Regions from separate parts of the Homo sapiens genome. Here region 2 is linked to region 1. A link means that fine-mapping ties the variant in region 1 to the plasma level of a protein whose gene starts in the linked region. Region 1 holds a variant in brackets. A gene starts in the other region. All regions are shown on their forward strands.

What was found. A credible set is the group of variants that fine-mapping cannot tell apart. PIP is the chance, under the fine-mapping model, that this variant and not a neighbour inherited with it causes the effect. The UK Biobank Pharma Proteomics Project read protein levels with antibody pairs (Olink). The fine-mapping took linkage between variants from a reference panel, not from the people measured, so its PIPs are less certain.
Region 2: it holds the start of TRIAP1, and the variant in region 1 is the best candidate, but not a certain one, in a credible set for the plasma level of the TRIAP1 protein (UK Biobank, PIP 0.82).

Annotation. Positions count from the first base shown.
Region 1 is chr8:42,397,241-42,400,151 of GRCh38, forward strand. VDAC3 (voltage dependent anion channel 3) reads left to right here. Exons shown (of 10, transcript NM_005662.7): 5 at 1,472-1,624; 6 at 2,411-2,463. Among named protein-coding and RNA genes, the nearest start is that of VDAC3, 6.8 kb to the left of the region's middle. The variant C/G (reference allele first, on the strand shown) is at 1,506.
Region 2 is chr12:120,445,502-120,448,412 of GRCh38, forward strand. It overlaps TRIAP1 (TP53 regulated inhibitor of apoptosis 1), which reads right to left and starts at 883. Exons shown (of 2, transcript NM_016399.3): 1 at 725-883. The coding sequence starts at 871. It overlaps GATC (glutamyl-tRNA amidotransferase subunit C), which reads left to right and starts at 943. Exons shown (of 4, transcript NM_176818.3): 1 at 943-1,060; 2 at 1,156-1,328. The coding sequence starts at 980. RefSeq lists enhancers at 65-912, 224-1,423, 638-1,187, 785-1,079, 913-1,758.

The sequences.
Region 1 (2,911 bases):
GTGAACAGTTAAACATGATTAACATGTTATCATTTTTTTTTTACTAAGGCCTTCCCCTAAATGTGCAGCATGATACTCTCTTTGAAACCATTCTGTGTGGTTTGATAAACAGAACATAACTTCCCAGTTGTCTCATCTGCCTGTAGAACTAGAGTTAGGGGACAGGGCATTTGTTAAGGAGAGGATTCATGTTGCAGGCAGTGAAAAAGACTGGTCAGGGTTGGCAGCATCTCATTACTGTTGGCAGGATTTCAGAAATGCTCCCTAAAACAGGACCAATCAGAATGTTTTTTCTTGACAGTTCATAGATTGTCAGTGACAGGTGCTGTCTGCTTTCCCCAGAAGGAGGTCCATTTCTAATTGCTTATTGTCATATGACTTAAAGGGCACTGAACTAGGGCAAAGGATGTATTTTATTTTATTTTATTTTTTTGAGACAGAGTCTCATTCATAGTAACTGTTTGATAGAAAGCACTCTTAAAGGTAGACAGGATAGAAAGGGGGAAAGAAGGATAAATTATAGCATTCTACTTTATTTTGAAAAATGGGTAGTACTTTCAAATATTGAAATTGTCTAAGCAGAAGTTTTGCAGTTTTGCACACAAAAGCATTAAAGTTTTCACAGCAGTGTGACTGTACTTAATGCCACTTCACTGTACACTTAAAACATTATTAAAATGGTAAAATGTATGTTACATGTATTTACCACAATAAAAAAAAACATTTTTAAAAGGAAGTAGTAAAGTGTTGACCCTATTAAAAAGGAGGAGGGCAGTATTTTGGGATTTTTAAGGACCTTGAAATTAACTGATAGTTTGAAACATATAGCAGAGAACTGATAATCTTTTTTTAGGTCATGAAAGTAAAATGTTTAAGATACAATATTTTTGGTCTTTTTAGTAAAGGCATTTGTTTTCAGTAAAGATACTTCTTTTTTAAAGGAGAGAATTTAGGATTACCATTTGGTAAGAGAGTATATGGAACAAGAGATATTAATAAGAGAAGTAGAGTAATGGAAAGATCTGAAACTGGTATTGAGCTGTCTCACTCCGTTGCCCAGGCTAGGGTGAAGTGGCATGATCTCGGCTCACTGCAACCTCTGCCTCCTGGGCTCAGGCTGGGACTACAGTCACGTGCCATCATGCCTGGCTAATTTTTTGTATTTTTTGTAGAGATGGGGTTTTGCCATGTTGCGCAGGCTGGTCTTGAGCTCCTGGACTCAAGGGATCCACCCGCCTTGGCCTCGTAACATGCTGGGATTACAGGCATGAGCCACTGCGCCTGGCAGAACTGGTTAAAATATTTAGGGACTGGAAAAGCAAGGGGAAAGGAGGAAAGAAGTTGCTCTAGAGTAGGGCTGTGGCAAGCAGTAAATGGTATTGTTTTTGATACATTGAACACTGCTTTCCAAAGTGAATATTTTCTATTTGATGAGCTAATTTTAAAGTAATTATTTTTTCTTGCTTACCAGGAATTTTCTACTTCTGGTCATGCTTACACTGATA[C/G]AGGGAAAGCATCAGGCAACCTAGAAACCAAATATAAGGTCTGTAACTATGGACTTACCTTCACCCAGAAATGGAACACAGACAATACTCTAGGGACAGAAATCTCTTGGGAGAATAAGGTAAGAGAACGCATTAGAAGTTATTCATAGGTTCAATTTATCTTGTAGATTGAATGATGAACATACCCCAAATATAATCAAAAGAGATCTTACAACCTATCTAGTAGCCATATTTTTTCTCTGCATGTGGCCTTTTTTGATGTCTTATGTTTCTAGAAAATAAGGCTTTGTTTGTGAGTACTCTAATTACTATATTACATCTTTGTTCTGACTGGTTCTCTGTTACACAGCTAAGCTTCTCCTGGGTAGAACAAACTATTTGCGGAAATTTGGTTTAGTTTTGTAATTGTTGAAAAATTGGCTTGACAGAAAAATTTTTCTAAAATGTTCTCATGTTTTCAAGGAGAAAATCTATTAGATATAGTCAAGTGCCCACTATGTACAGGGCACTGTTTTTGATAGAGATACCATGTATAGATAATGTACATGCAAAACTGAGTAAAATGACTTAGCCTGCTTGTTAAATGTCAGGTTATCTCATTACTGCTCTTTCAAGAGAGTATCAAGATGATTTTGTTGTATGGGAATTCTGTTTGGTTTTGAACTGTATTTTATGTAACTTGCTAAAATAGGATTTGCCCCATTTTTTAGTGGGAGAACCATGATGAAGGCTGGGGTGAGGGGACAGGAGGATGGAGAGCTTACTTATTACATAATTTAATATTTTGCTTTCTTGAATGACTCCTTTTTTTTGTTAAAGAACTCAGGAAACTTTAGAATTGGTTTCTTGAGTTGGATAAATGATTGAAAATTACTAATTATTTATTTTAAATCTTTGTTTTTCAGTTGGCTGAAGGGTTGAAACTGACTCTTGATACCATATTTGTACCGAACACAGGGTAATTATTCAAATCCCATTTCCTGAAACGTTTTTGGAGCCTGAAAGGGTAGAGAGCTTTAGAATAAGGAGATATAGTGCAAAGTTCAGAGGCAGGAAGAACTCAGAAGGTTGCTATAAGGAATATTGGAGACCTTGTATAGGTAATACAGATAAAGGAAGATCCCTCCCCACCAAGGCAGGATGAACAATTTGAAAACTGAATAGATGAGCAAAAATGTATAAATGTATTTGAGAGAGACACATGGTAGAAAAAATTTAGGAGCTAGAAGAGTCTTGAGACCATAGATGAATCTTAAGCAATTCTGAAGATTGATGGACATGGTATTCTGCTGAGAAAGTTAATTCCTTTTGGCTGGGCGTGGTGGCTCACGCCTGTAATCCTAGCACTTTGGGAGGCCGAGATGGGCGGATCATGAGGTCCGGAGATGGAAACCATCCTGGCTAAC
Region 2 (2,911 bases), not on the chromosome of region 1:
ATAATCATCACTTTGTGTTAGTGAAAGACTTAGGTTCAAATCTGGGTTCCAGGACTTACTGGCTATGTGACTAACTGTAAATGGGATGAAGACAGCAACTACCTCGGGGAATTGCTGTGAGGATGTGTTGGGTTAACTTATTGGAAGTGCTTTGCCCGGTGCTGTTCTTAACAATTCAAAGCAGTTCCACATCCATTGGGCCAGAATAAACATTTCCTGGCTGCAGTTGCGGGGACTGGTCAAGAGAGAGAAACAGGCTAACGAAGGGTTTATAACAACAAAAAAATGTGACCCTCCAGTCTGAATTCTGAAGTATAATCCCGCCCAGACCCCAGCAGTAATAGTGGAAAAGTGCACCACCTGCGAAAGAACCAAGGAAACCTGATGCTAGTGAACTCGGATTAATCACTTCCTATTTCTGGGTGTTAGTTTTTTATGTATAAAATATGAGTAACTATGCCCACCTTGCGAGTTTAGGGTGAACACCAAATGAACCAAAGGATGTGACTGTGCTTCTTGAAAAGCACTGCCCCAATATTTGTCATTCGGAGAGACACCCAAGTGGCCTCGGTGGTGATGGTAGGGGAGCGAGCTCCTGCCACTGGCCTCACTGCGACTTTTCTCCACCCTTCCAGTCCAGTCCCAATCCCCGTAAAATACGATGAGTGTGGTGGGACACAGCGCCGAGAATGCAGGGCCTGGGAACAGAGGCGGGAGGGCTCACCTGAACACACTGCTGGTAGCGCTTGAAGAGGTCGGTGCACGGGTCCCCGGAGCTGTCCCCCTTGAGAAATTTCTCGGCGAACCAGCGATTGAAGCACTGGTCGTACTCGCGCTTCATGTCCGTGCATGCCTCCCCCACACTGTTCATGGCGACAGTGGTGGCGGCGGCGACGACGGCGCACTCTGATGTCATCACTCTCAGGCGCGTCGCTCGGCGTTACGCGCGGGCGCACTGCGGGGGCCAAGGAAGGAAGAAATGTGGTCGCGGTTGGTGTGGCTGGGCCTTCGGGCCCCTCTGGGCGGGCGCCAGGGCTTCACCTCCAAGGCGGATCCTCAGGTAAAGGCCAGGGCCATCTAGGCGGGTGGCGGAGCAAGCCGGGAGGCACTTCGGAGCGCCGGTGACCCACACTCCCCGCCTCATCCCTCCTCCAGGGCAGTGGCCGGATCACGGCTGCGGTGATCGAGCACCTGGAGCGTCTAGCGCTTGTGGACTTCGGCAGCCGCGAGGCAGTGGCGCGACTGGAGAAAGCTATCGCCTTCGCCGACCGGCTACGCGCCGTGGACACAGACGGGGTGGAGCCCATGGAATCGGTCCTGGAGGACAGGTAAACTCGCGGCTGCAGCCCCGAAGCCTTGACCGTGGCCCGTTCGCAGCCGTTTAATGTGACGATTAGCGAACAGTTTTCCAGGGGGTTAAAGAGTGTTAGCAAGATTCAGGAACTTGCCCACAGTCACCTCGCGAGTCAGTGGCTTCACTCTTCCCCTTGTTCATTACTGATGCTCTCGCTAGTGTAAGTGGAAACAAAACCCGAACTGCTAATCACTGCCTTTGTTTTTTTTTTTGTTTGTTTGTTTTGTTTTTTTTTTTTTGAGACGGAGTCTCGCTGTGTTGCCTAGGCTGGAGTGCAGTGGCTCGATCTCGGCTCACTGCAACCTCCGCCTCCCGTGTTCAAGCAATTCTCTGCCTCAGCCTCCCGAGTAGCTGGGATTACAGGCGACTGCCACCAGGCCCGGCTTATTTTTTTTGTATTTTTAGTAGAGACGTGGTTTCACCATCTTGGCCAGGTTGGTCTTGAACTCCTGACCGTGATCCACCCGCCTCGGCCTCCCAAAGTGCTGGGATTACAGGTGTGAGCCACCGCGCCTGGCCTAATCATCGCCTTTAAGGCCCTACTCCATAGAGTCCCTACCTACTCACTCCAACGTACTCTTCTCAGTACTCTCCTTGGCTACCTTGACTGCTTCTCCAGCAAGACAAGTTCTTTTCCTCTCTAGATCTCTGCACTGGCCCTTCGTTTTTTTCCTTCCTCTCAGTATTTGCATGGCTGCCTCCCTCTTGGCACAGGTCTCAGCTTATCTTCTCAGAAAGGGCTCTCCTAACCACTCCAAATCCCTTCTCCCCTTCTAGTTAGTAACTCATCCTATTGGGTTTTTTCCCTAACATTTTAATGGACTTTTGTTCATTTGTTATATCTCTTTTATTAAAATGTGAGCTCATTATGTAGTTACTGTTTTATTCCTGCCTTGAATTTTTATTTTATTTGTTTTTGAGATGGAGTCTCACTCTATCACCCAGGTTAGAGTGCAGTGGCATGATCTCAGCTCATTGTAATGTCCACCTCCCAGACTCAAGAGAGCCTCCCATCTCAGCCTCCCAAGTACAGGACCACAGGCGCGTGCCACTTGGCCTGGCTAATTTTTTGTATTTTTGATAGAGACGGGATTTTGCCATGTTCCCCAGGCTTGTCTGGACTCCTGAGCAAAGGTGATCCACCCATCTCAGCCTCCTAAAGTACTGGGATTACAGGCATGAGCCACAGCACCTGGCCGTGTTTGATTCTTTCAAATGTCTTCTCTACTTTGCAATTTTCTTTTTCCTTTGGGACGGGGTCTCACTATGTTGCCCAGGCTGGTCGCAAACTTCTAGACTCAAGAGATCCTCCTGCCTCAGCCTCCCAAATAGCTGGGACTATAGGTGTGCACCACCACACCTGGCTAATACTTAAAATTTTTGTAGAAACGGGGTCTTGCCATGTTGCCCCATATGGTCTCAAACTCCTGGTCTCAAGCAATCCTCCTGCCTCAGCCTCCCACTTCCTCAAGAAAGTTTTTTTTTTTTTTTGAGGTGGAGTCCTGCCCCATCACCCAGGCTGGAGTGCAGTGGCATGATCTTGGCTCACTGCAACCT